2 linked regions of the Homo sapiens genome follow. The protein of the gene in region 1 purifies or fractionates together with the protein of each later gene. This does not show direct contact. Each region holds a gene or a part of one and is shown on either strand. Other genes may lie near its edges.

The links. Proteins that work in one complex are often made in the same cells at the same time.
Region 2: the proteins of KLK10 (region 1) and EDC3 purify together in Homo sapiens (affinity purification with mass spectrometry; 3 studies listed by BioGRID and IntAct, with this or other methods). This does not show direct contact.

Annotation. Positions count from the first base shown.
Region 1 is NC_000019.10:51,012,221-51,016,725, forward strand, and holds the end of KLK10 (kallikrein-10 preproprotein), read right to left. Parts: intron 3,937-4,505; coding exon 3,662-3,936; intron 3,331-3,661; coding exon 3,197-3,330; intron 2,733-3,196; coding exon 2,580-2,732; 3' UTR 519-2,579; downstream 1-518. UniProt on the Homo sapiens protein: Has a tumor-suppressor role for NES1 in breast and prostate cancer.
Region 2 is NC_000015.10:74,685,992-74,693,025, reverse strand, and holds part of EDC3 (enhancer of mRNA-decapping protein 3), read left to right. Parts: intron 1-7; exon of another isoform or gene 8-140; intron 141-5,846; exon of another isoform or gene 5,847-5,935; intron 5,936-7,034. UniProt on the Homo sapiens protein: Binds single-stranded RNA. Involved in the process of mRNA degradation and in the positive regulation of mRNA decapping. May play a role in spermiogenesis and oogenesis.

The DNA.
Region 1 (4,505 bases):
GCTGATCTTAAACTCCTGAGCTCAAGCATTCCACCCATCTCAGCCTCCTAAAGTTCTGGGATTATAGGAGTGAGCCACTGCGCCCAGCCTATCTCATTTAACTCTCACGGGAGTCTAATTAAGCAGGTGTCTCCATTTCACAGAGTGAAAACTGAGGAAGAGACAGCATTCAAGTAATTTGCTCAAAGTCATACAGCAAAGTGATTGAAATGCATTTCCTTCTCTACCTGGTGAACTCCTACTTATCCTTTAAACTCCTGCACAAATGTCCCCTCATTGAGAAGCCTTTCCTGACTCCTTCAGGCACAGCCTGTGGACTTGGTGTGGTGCACCCCATACCCCCTTCTGTTACAGCACTGATCTATTTGTGTTATGTGTTCACACAGCAACGGGGGTGACTTCTGTGTGCCGGGCACAATACAGGAGCTTAGAAAATCACAGTGAACAAATATCTGAATCACTGCCCTCACGGAATTTGTGGGGAAGGGTGACATAGACCATTATCAAGTAAACACAAATGAGATAATTTCAGGTATAATAGGTGCTATTAAAAAAAAAAACAAACAAACAAAAAACAGAGCATCGGGACTGGATGACCAAAAGTGGACTCCTATAGCCTGGGCAATTCAGGAAGGCCTCCCGGAGGAGGTGACTTTTGAGTGGAGACCTGAATGACAGGAATGTAAGACTGGCCTGTCTCCCTGACCTAACTAGCAGCTCCTTGAGGGTAGTGCCTGGTCTGATTCATCTTTGAGGCCTGGCATAAGACGTGGCTCGATAAACATTGTGGAGTGACTAAAGGGACGGGTGAGTTGCCTTTAATAATGAATCGAGTTTTCAAGTTTCCACCGACCTCGCTTCTGGTCTTTGGATGACAAACCCAGCTGATACGCCTGTCTGACATTTCCTGCGTGTGCTAATGGGGGCAGAATGGGAAAGAGGCCACGGAAGGGAGCTGTGTGCTCAGACCTTGTACATCAACCTCCTGTGGGCTCTGCAGGGTGGGGGACCTTGTGATCACCCCTACGTATGTCCCCAGCACCCAGCACTGGGCCTGGCACATAATAGATGCTCCATAAATTGGTAACTGAAAGGACAAACAAACAAACAAAAACCCCGTGCTTAATGGGAAATTTCTGTTGTGCCTATATTCAGCTAGCTTATGTTACTGCTTCAAAGTTCAGGATAAGCTGAGACACTCAAACTTCTTCTTTTTTTGAGATGGAGTTTTGCTCTTTTGTCCAGGCTGGATGGAGTGCAATGGTGCAATCTTGGCTCACTGCAACCTCTGCCCCCCGGGTTCAAGTGATTCTTCTGCCTCAGCCTCCCAAGTAGATGGGATTATAGGTGCCTGCCACCATGCCTGGCTAGTTTTTGTATTTTCAGTAGAGATGGGATTTCACCATTTTGGCCAGACTGGTCTCGAACACCTGACCTCAGATGATCTGCTTTCCTCGGCCTCCCAAAGTGCTAGGATTACAGGCGTGAGCCACCACACCCAGCGGACACTGAAGCTTCTATTAGCCTTACCTGGATTCTGTGTATTAACTCCCCTTCCCTCCCCCAATTTCAGGGAGAATCAAACAATTCCTCCTCCCAAGTTTTCAGGACGAAAATCTCACAGCCAATTAATAACAGACAAACCAAAGATTTTCCCCTAAATGTCAGAGGGAGGTTTCTTGGCACAAGCTGGGCAGTTGAGGTGGCAAGGGTTTCCCAATCTTCACTACCCCCTCGGCCCTCTGGTCTTAGAGGCTGGGATAGAAGCAAGGTGAGGTCCCTTGAGTTCAGTGGCCTCATGAAGGCAGAGAAGGTGCTAATGACTCAGGGCCAGCCTAGCTCGGAGGAACTGGTGTTGGGTGGAACCAGAAGTGGGAAACAGTGGGAGATGAGAAGGAAGTGGTTAAAAGGTGTTTCCTGGGACTTGGAACTAGGGTGAGGAAAATGATTCTTCCATCATCCCTAAGGGTTGGGGATGGAAGGTTGGGACTGGGGGCTACCCTGTGCACTTCTTCCCTGGACACACGCTTTCACCGGGACGTGGTCAGATCACGACAACAGGTAACCTTTAGTCAGAACTCACCACCCACTGTGTTAAGCCTTACATGACAATCACCATGAAGATTTACATACACATGTTATATCATAGTCTCCTCACAACATGTCTAAGAGGTAGGCACGTCATTGTTCCCATTTTGCAGATGAGGAAACTGAGGTTCAGAGAGGGCACTTGGCTTGCCCAAAGTCACACAGCAGGGAGTGGCAGAGGAAGTCAGGTTGGGTGACCCCAGTAACTGCTCTCAGAGGCTGGGTGATGACCGGCTTCCTGGCTTCTCTGGAATAAACCTTTGCCACCACTTCCTGCATTTCAGCTTCAGTACAGGCAGAGAATGGGGATAGGTGGGGGAATGAGGTGAGAGGGGAGATGTTTAGAGGTGTGGAGGGCGGCAGAGGTTTGAACAGTGCAGACAAGGGGAGAGTTCAGCCGACTGGGGAGGAAGAGGATGGACGATGGAGCCTCTGGGCATCTGGATCAGCAGGAGCATAACATCTGGATCAGCTGGAGCGTAGCATCTGGATCAGTTGGAGCGTATGACTTTATTGATCCAGGACATGTATTTGCAGATCTGGGTGTAGACAGCTGGATGCTGGGCAGAGCCACAGGGGTAAACACCCCACGAGAGGATGCCTTGGAGGGTCTCGTCACAGACCAGGGGGCCTCCAGAGTCACTCTGGGGGTGGCAGGAAGGAGAGATCAAATAAATGTGCCAACGTGAGAGCTGTCACTTTGGGATCTGGGGCAGTGGTGGGGAAGGAAGGAGTTGGGTTGGGATAAAGACGAGGATGGGATGGGGTTGGAATTAGGTATGAGCTGGAAGGTAGGAATGGAGGTGGACTTCAGGTTATGGGAGGTTGGGCTGGGGGATGAGAATGAAGGCACAGTGAGACTGGGGTTGGGATTGTAGTTCATGGAAGGTGAGGGGATGAAAATGGGCTTGGAGATGGGAATGGGGTGGGGTTGGGATGGAAATGGGATTGAGGATAGGGATGAGGAGGGGGTTAGGTCTGGGTAAGAGTTGGGGTCAAGGATGGGTTTGGGAATGGAGTTGGGGATCGGGCACAGGGTCTGCTCTTTTCCCATAACCTCCCTGTCCTCCCTCCCAGGAGTCAGAGACTCTCCCTGTTCAGACCCTACCTGGCAAGGGTCCTGGCCCCGGTCCAGTCCAGCACATATCATGTTGTTGGTGACCACGCCAGGGTAGAAGACCTCACACTCTTTAGGGCTCAGGATAGTGATGCTGGAGCAGGTCAGGCCCTTGTTGTACTTCACTGAAGGGAGAATATGCCAGTAATCCCTGGGTCCAGCCCCCAATCCTTGGGGAGCCAGGAGTCCAGATACAAGACCGTTTCTATCCTAAGCCCCAGCCCCTCCTCCTTCAGACTCAAGAATCCTGGCCCCAGCCCCTCCCCACTTAGACCCAGGAGTCCAGGCCCCCAGCCCCTCCTCCCCTCAGACTCACAGACCCAGGCATCTAGGACCCCAGCCCGTCCTCCCTCAGATCCAGGAATCCAGTCCCCAGCCCATCCTTCCTCAGACCCAGGGGTTCAGGCCCTCAGCCCCCTCCTCCTGAGGTTCCGGCCTCAGAGCCCCAGCTCTTGCCTCTCCGGGCGGCCGTGGTGCCCCAGCCAGCAACCTGGCACTGGTCTCCGGGCTGAGCACAGCGGTAGGGAAGCTGCAGGGCCCGGACGCGGGGCCCCAGCACTACGGGCCTGGCCAGCTTCAGCAACATGAGATCGTGCTCATCCGTTCGCCTTGGCAGGATGGGGCCTGAGCCCTGGTGGTACTTGGGATGGACAACAGAGCGAGTGGTCCGGCGGAGCTGCTCTCCCTGAAGAAGCAGCAGGTGGTCATCCCCTACTCGAGCCCACAGTGGCCTGGGGGAAGGAAGAGGCATGTGAAGGCAAACCCTTCATAGGGACTGGGAAAGCAGGTGGGCAGTGACGCAGGGCCTGGAGATAGGAAGAGTCTGAGGGAAGAGGGCCTTGTGGGAGAAGGGGACCTCAGTGGACATGGGGAGGAGGAATCAGTTGTTTGAGCTCTGAGGATCTGTAGGAATTGAGGAGGGCTGGGGGCCTGGACACCTAGGTAAGCCTTCCACATTTTCTTTTCTCTTTTTCTTTTCTTTGTTGAAACAGAGTTTCGCTCTTGTCACCCAGGCTAGAATGCAATGGCGCAATCTCGGCTCACTGCAACCTCCACCTCCCAGGTTCAAGCAGTTCTCCTGCCTCAGCCTCCTTCCTGAGTAGCTGGGATTACAGGCACCCACCACCACACCCAGCCTTTTTTTTTTTTTAATTTTTTTAAAATTTTTTATTTTTTATTTTATTTTATTTTTAGTTGAGAAGTGGTTTCACCATGTTGGCCAGGCTGGTCTTGAACTCCTGACCTCAGGTGATCCACCCGCCTTGGCCTCCCAAAGTGCTGGGATTACAGGCGTGAGCCA
Region 2 (7,034 bases), on another chromosome or scaffold:
ATTTCAGGCTTTCAGGTATAGGCTGGGTCACTAGTCTTAAAACATTTCTTCTTGAGAATGTCTAAAAGACTGTGGAATCTGTTAGATCTTATATACTTTTAAGTTGGCACCTGAAACTTTTCATCCTAGATTTACATAGTGTAAGTATTTAATTTTAAATAGTTTAGGATGTAATTTCTGACAAGTAAATATTGACTTCTTAAAAATAAATATAAAATTACCTAAATACAATATCAATTTGATGTTGTAAAAACATACAACTAAACTTTTGAAACAAAGACTGTAAGAAATACATAACATAGCTTATTACATTACTTGATTTTCAGATGTTAAACCCATCTTGCATTTGTGAAATGAACCCTGCTTAGTAATGTATCTACTACTTTTTACATATAGATGGATTCAATTTGCTAACATTTTGTTAATTTTTGTGACTGTGTTCATGATGGATATTGGTCTGAGGTTTCCTTTTTTTTATGTCATCTTTGGCCTTAGTAGCAGGGTAATTATGACCTCATAAAATGAATTGGGAAGTGTTCCTTCCTCCTCTGTTTTCTGAAATAGTTTGTGTAGGATTGGTATTATTTCTTACGTGTTTCATAGAATTTACCAGTGAAGTCCTATGGGCCTGGGTTTTTCTCTCTGGGAAGATTTTACTAATTCAATTTCTTAATATAGTTAGTTGAGTTAGTTTTGGTCATTTTTATCATTTTGGGAGTTTGTCCATTACATATTTTTCCTTTTTCTTTTTGAACTTGTATCCATTCCACTTTTCCCACAGAATTTTATCCTAAAGCAAAAGTCAACTTTCTGTCAAAGGCCAGATGAAAGGCTTTATGGGCCACATGGTTTCTGTGATTACTGCTTAATTCTCACTGTAGTGAGAAAACAGCCATAGACAATATGTGGCCGGGTGCGGTGGCTCACGCCTGTAATCCCATCACTTTGGGAGACTGAGGCAGGCGGATCACGAGGTCAGGAGATCGAGACCATCCTGGCTAACACAGTGAAACCCCGCCTCTACTAAAAAATACAAAAAAAATTAGCCGGGCGTGTTGGTGGGCGCCTGTAGTCCCAGCTACTTGGGAGGCTGAGGCAGGAGAATCGCTTGAACCCGGGAGGTGGAGGTTGCAGTGAGCCGAGATCGCTCCACTGCACTCCAGCCTGGACGACAGAGCAAGACTGTCTCAAAAAAACCCAAAAAAACCCAGAAAATAGCCGTAGATAATATGCAAGTATTTTTGTGTAGTTGTGTTCCAATAAAACTTTATTGGTAGCAGACCAGATCTGGTTTAGGGCTGTAGTTTTCCTACCCATCCTAAAGTAATAAATTTTATGCCTGAAAATTTAAAATTGATCATCTAGTTATCCACACAGATCAGGTTTATGAGAGTAGCATGGAAGTTGATTCCCTTGCTTGCATATCTTTGTGTACCCCCTACGGACATGTGTATTCCAGTGTAAAGACCAGGACTTGATTTCCAAGATGTTGTAGAGGGAATTCATGTATTTTTGTAATTTTGTTTGGGTGAGAAGTGAGGTGGCCCTCACAGCGCCATAACTTAAGTTCCCTATGTGATCGGTATTCTTTCTGGCAAAAGGAGACATTTGAACTAAAATTTTTTATGTTGTAGACACTATATGGATTATCTCATTTAATCTTAAAATAATCCATATAGTATCTTAAAATAATCCATATAGTATCTTAAAATAATTCATATAGTGGTTCTATGAGATAGGTGTATAATTGGCATAATTCCCTACAGATGAGGCAGTTGAGACTCAGATTAGGTAATTTGCCCAGGTCGTAGTGCTGGTTAGTAAGGAAGTTCAGAAGTGAACCAGGGGCTGTGATGTCTGATTTCATTTTTTTCTTTTTTTTTTTTTTTGAGACAGGGTCTTGCTCTGCCACCCAGGCTGGAGTGCAGTGGTGCAATCTTGGCTCACTGCAACCTCCGCCTCCCAACACTTCTGACTAATTTTTTGTATTTTTTCTAGAGACAGAGTTTTGCCATGTTGCCCAGGCTGGCTTTGAACTCCTAGGCTCAAGCGGTCAGCCCTCCTTGGCCTCCCACAGTGCTAGGATTGCAGACACTAGCCACCTGAGGCGTGAGCCACCACACCCAGTGTGATTTCAGAATTTTATTCTCTTTTCACCGTGCTGCCTTTTATGGAAGATATGGGTTTAGTACTGGATTTAGATAGGGGATTGTGCTGGATTTCTTTTTCTGAGGCGGGGTGGGGGTGGAAACAGTCTTGCTATGTTGTCCAGGCTGGTCTGAAACTCCTGGCCTCAAGTGATCCTCCTGCCTCAGCCTCCCAAAGTGCTGGGATGTAGGGCCTGAGCCATCATGCTGGGTTGCATATTTTCTTTTAAGATCTCTGCCTTTCCCAATATTTTGATTAAACAAACACCTTTCCTGTTGTGTGGAACAATTCCTAGTTTTTCAGAAATCTATAACTACTCACTCATCCACAGCTGTTAATTATAATTGTTTTTAGCAGGCCAAGGGTTGTTTATTGGATCTGAATGCTGTGAGTTGTCTGATGTGGCACAGAGATGGAGGTAGCTAGATTTGTAATTGGCAACTTGTTTATTTGTAATTTATGGATCATTTGGGCGCTGCCTTAGTAATATAATAGATGGAAGAGTGTTTAGCGCTACCTGACTTTGTTATCCAAAGGCTTATCAGAATAATGATAAAGTCCCATTACTTATCTGGCATTCAGTAGTCTGGAAATCCTGATAGTTCAGCATTTGAGCAAAATAGTCCCATAATTAAAAGTAATCTGGAAAATCTTGATTATGTCACATCTGTGGCTCCCTTCCTAGCTACACAGATTGTTAGGATAGATTTTAATAACAAGTTGGCAAAATAAGTGTTGGTTAGCTAGCTGCACAAACATTGCATTTTTTTGAAATATTTAACATTGTTGAATACTACACAGAAAAATTAGTTTTTTTTAGAAGTGGAATTGTTTGAAGGATTTATTGTCATGAATAGGCTTTACAGGGAAGATGTATTTTTTTTTATTGTACATCAAATCCTGTCAGCAAACTTACACTAGTAATGTATTAATGAGATGAAGGATATTCCAAAGTAGCTAGATTTGTAATTGGCAACTTGTTTATTTGTATAAGAACAAAGTGGTAAATGAATTAAAGTATTCTTACCTGGAGGTGTTTAAGAAATGGAGGCAGGGCCGGGCGCAGTGGCTCACGCCTGTAATCCCAGCACTTTGGGAGGCCGAGGCGGGCGGATCATGAGGTCAGGAGATCGAGACCATCCTGGCTAACACGGTGAAACCCCATCTCCACTAAAAATACAAAAAATTAGCCGGGCGCGGTGGCGGGCACCTGTAGTCCCAGCTACTCAGGAGGCTGAGGCGGGAGGATGGTGTGAACCCAGGAGGCGGAGCTTGCAGTGAGCTGAGATAGTGCCACTGCAGTCCGGCCTGGGCGAAAGAGCGAGACTCCGTCTCAAAAAAAGAAAAAAAAAAAAGAAATGGAGGGAGAAGGAAGACAAATAAGACTAAATGAACTTTGGTAGCAAGTTCTTGACTGAATAGTAATTCACAACATCTCTGAATTCAGTAGTCATTACAATTTTAGGAATAATTTATTGGGAGAATAACAGTATCAATGAAGCAAGAGTAAATAAGAAGTATGTTTAAGAAAATACCAAAACCATTGCACCCCACCAGAATGAGTAAGTTGAAGAGAACAATAGTACCAAGTTTTGGCAAGATGAGGAGCAGAAAGAACTCACGTATGGTGGGTTGTATAAATGTAGATGGTAATACAAAATGGTACAACCACTTTGGAAAACTGTTCAGTGGTTCCTAATAAAGTCATAAATATAACATGACTTCCTGTGTTATATGCCCAGTAGAAATGGATGTATTTGTCCATCGCAGAAATATACTGTATACAGTTTAAGAATATTATTTGTAATAAGTCAGAACTAGAAATAACCCAACTATGTATCAGCAGTAGAATGGATAAATACATTGAGGCATGCTTACAGAAAACAGCACAGCTATGAGAAAGAATAAACTTCTGATACATGCAACAATGGGGATGAATCTCACAAATGTACTTTTTTTTTTTTTTTTTTTGAGACAGCATCTCGCTCTGTCACCCATACTGGAGTGCAGTAGCAGGATCTTGGCTCACTGCAACCTCCGCCTCCCCAGTTCAAGCGATTCTTGTGCCTCAGCCTCCTGAGTAGCTGGGATTACAGGCATGTGCCACCACGCCCAGCTAATTTTTTGTATTTTTAGTAGAGACAGGGTTTTGCCATGTTGGCTAGATTGGTATTGAACTCTTGACCTCAAGTGATCCACCCGCCGTGGCCTCCCAAAGTGCTGGGATTACAGGCATGAGCCACCATGCCTGGCCTCACAGATGTACTTTTGAGCAAAAGAAGACAAACACTCTGAAAGAGAACCTTTATGATTCTGTTTATGTGAAGCTCAAAATCAGGCTCAAATAATCTTTCATGATAGATGTCAGAATAATAACTACCTGTAGGAGGACACAATGGAGCCTTTTGAGGTGTTGGAAATAGTCTGTCTTGTTTTGAGTGGTGGTCACATGGGTGAATTGATATGTAAAATTTCAGGGAGGTGTACACTTAAAATATGTAGACTGACTTACTGTATATGTTATACCTTGATAGAAAAGTAGAAAATAAAAGACAAGATTGGTTCCTTGTAGCTCCTGTATCTCCTGTACTTCTTTTGACGTGGAGGTGTTAGCTGTATAATTGATGGAGCCCCTTCCCTAGTCCGATTAGGAACCCAGTTGATGGGCACTGTACTTGTTTTAGATTTACTGTTTTCTGTAAATAGCATAATTTTCTTTATAGAATAAACCTGTTTGAGGAGTTTTGAATAATGCTATTTTACCAAGGGAAGTTTCTGAGGAAAGGGAAGTTTGTTACACATTCAGTGGTTATATTTTTAAAAGTTTCTATTAATATTAACTACATAGAAGAACACTTATAAACGAGTATCCACATTTTCAAAGTGTTAAAAATTCTATTCAGTTACTACTACCATAATATAAACTTGAATGCACAACATCAGTGTCTTAAAGATATATGTTAAATAAAACAGTAAAAGCCTTTTCATATCTGGTTAATTTCTGGTGCTTTTTATTCTGCATCTATCTAAGCATCTGAGTAGAATTATGATGGATTATAAATGATAGGAAAGGAAACTCATGCTTTTGTGACATTAGGCAAAGGTTGATCAGGAAGGGAAAAGAAGCCTAAAATGTGTGTATTTTGTGCTTTTTTACCATCATCATTATTGTTGAAATTGTGTTGCATTGAAAATTTACCCAAGGGCCAGGCACAGTGGCTCATGCCTGTAATCCTAGTGCAGAGGCTGAGGTGAGCAGATCACCAGAAGGCAGGAGTTCGAGATCAGTCTGGCCAACATGGTGAAACCCCATCTCTACTAAAAATACAAAAATTAGCTGGGTGTGGTGGCGGGCGCCTGTAGTCCCAGCTACTCAGGAGGCTGAGGAAGGAGAATTGCCTGATTGAACCTGGGAGGCAGAAGTTGCAGTGAGCCAAGATTGCGCCACTGCACTCTAGCCTGGGCGACAGAGCAAGGCTCTGTTTCATTCTATAATAAATGTAACAAAAAAAAGCCTGTATGAGCCTGCTAATTCATTGTTCTTTTAATCTTCGGTTCTGTCCGCATAGTTTTATGATACTGGCTCAGTTAGATCACTAGAGAACTATCTAGAGTTTGATTAATCCCTAGAGCTGGACTCTTTCAGACTTAGTGTTTCTAATGGGGCATACTGTTTTTTGTTTTTTTTTTTGAGACAGGGTCTTGCTGTGTTGCCCAGCCTGGTCTTGAATTCCTGGACTCAAGTGATGCTCCTGCCTTGGCTTCCCAAACTCCTGGAATTACAACTGTGAGCCACTGCACCCAGCCAGGAGTGCTTTATTTTTATTTATTTTTTATTTTTTTCTAGACGGAGTCTTGCTCTGTTGCCCAGGCTGGAGTGCAGTGGTGCGGTGTCGGCTCACTGCAGGCTCCGCCTCTTGGGTTCAAGCAGTTATCCTGTCAGCCTCCTGAGTAGCTGGGATTACAGGTGCATGCCACCATGCCGTCCACGTCGGCCTCCCAAAGTGCTGGGATTATAGGCGTGAGCCATTGCGGCTGGCCTGGAGGAGTGCTGTATATGCTTTTTTGCCCCTTTCCCTTCATTTATGTATTTATTTTGAGACAAAGTCTTGCTCTTGTTAGCAGGCTGGAGTGCAGTGGCGCAATTTCTGCTCACTGTATCCTCTGCGTCTTGGGTTCAAGTGGTTTTCCCACCTCAGCCTCCTAAATAGCTGGGATTACAGGCACCCACCACCACACCTGGCTAATTTTTGTATTTTTAGTAGAGATGGGGTTTCACCATGTTGGCCAGGCTGGTCTCAAACTCCTCAGGTGATCCACCTGCCTCGGCCTCTGAAAGTGCTGGGATTATAGGAGTGAGCCACCGTGGCTGGCCTATTTAATTTTTTTTGAGATGGAGTCTTGTTCTTGTTGCCCAGGCTGGAGTGCAATGGTGTGATCTCAGCTCACTGCAACCTTCGCCTCCCAATTTCAAGTGACTCCCCTGCCTCAGCCTCCCAAGTAGCTGGGATTACAGGCATGCACCACCATGCCCGGCTAATTTTTTTTTTTTGAGACCGAGTCTTGTTCTCGTTGCCCAGGCTGGAGTGCAATGGCACGATCTCAGCCCACTGCATCCTCCGCCTCCCGGGTTCAAGCGATTCTCCTGCTTCAGCCTCCTGAGTAACTGGGATTACAGGAACATGCCACCGCATTTGGCTAATTTTTGTATTTTTAGTAGAGATGGGGTTTCACCTTGTTGGTCAGGCTGGTCTCGAACTCCTGACCTTGTGATCCACCTGCCTCAGCCTTCCAAAGTGCTGGGATTACAGGCGTGAGCCACTGCGCCCGGCCAATTTTGTATTTTTAGTAGATATGGGGTTTCATCATGTTGGTCAGGCTGGTCT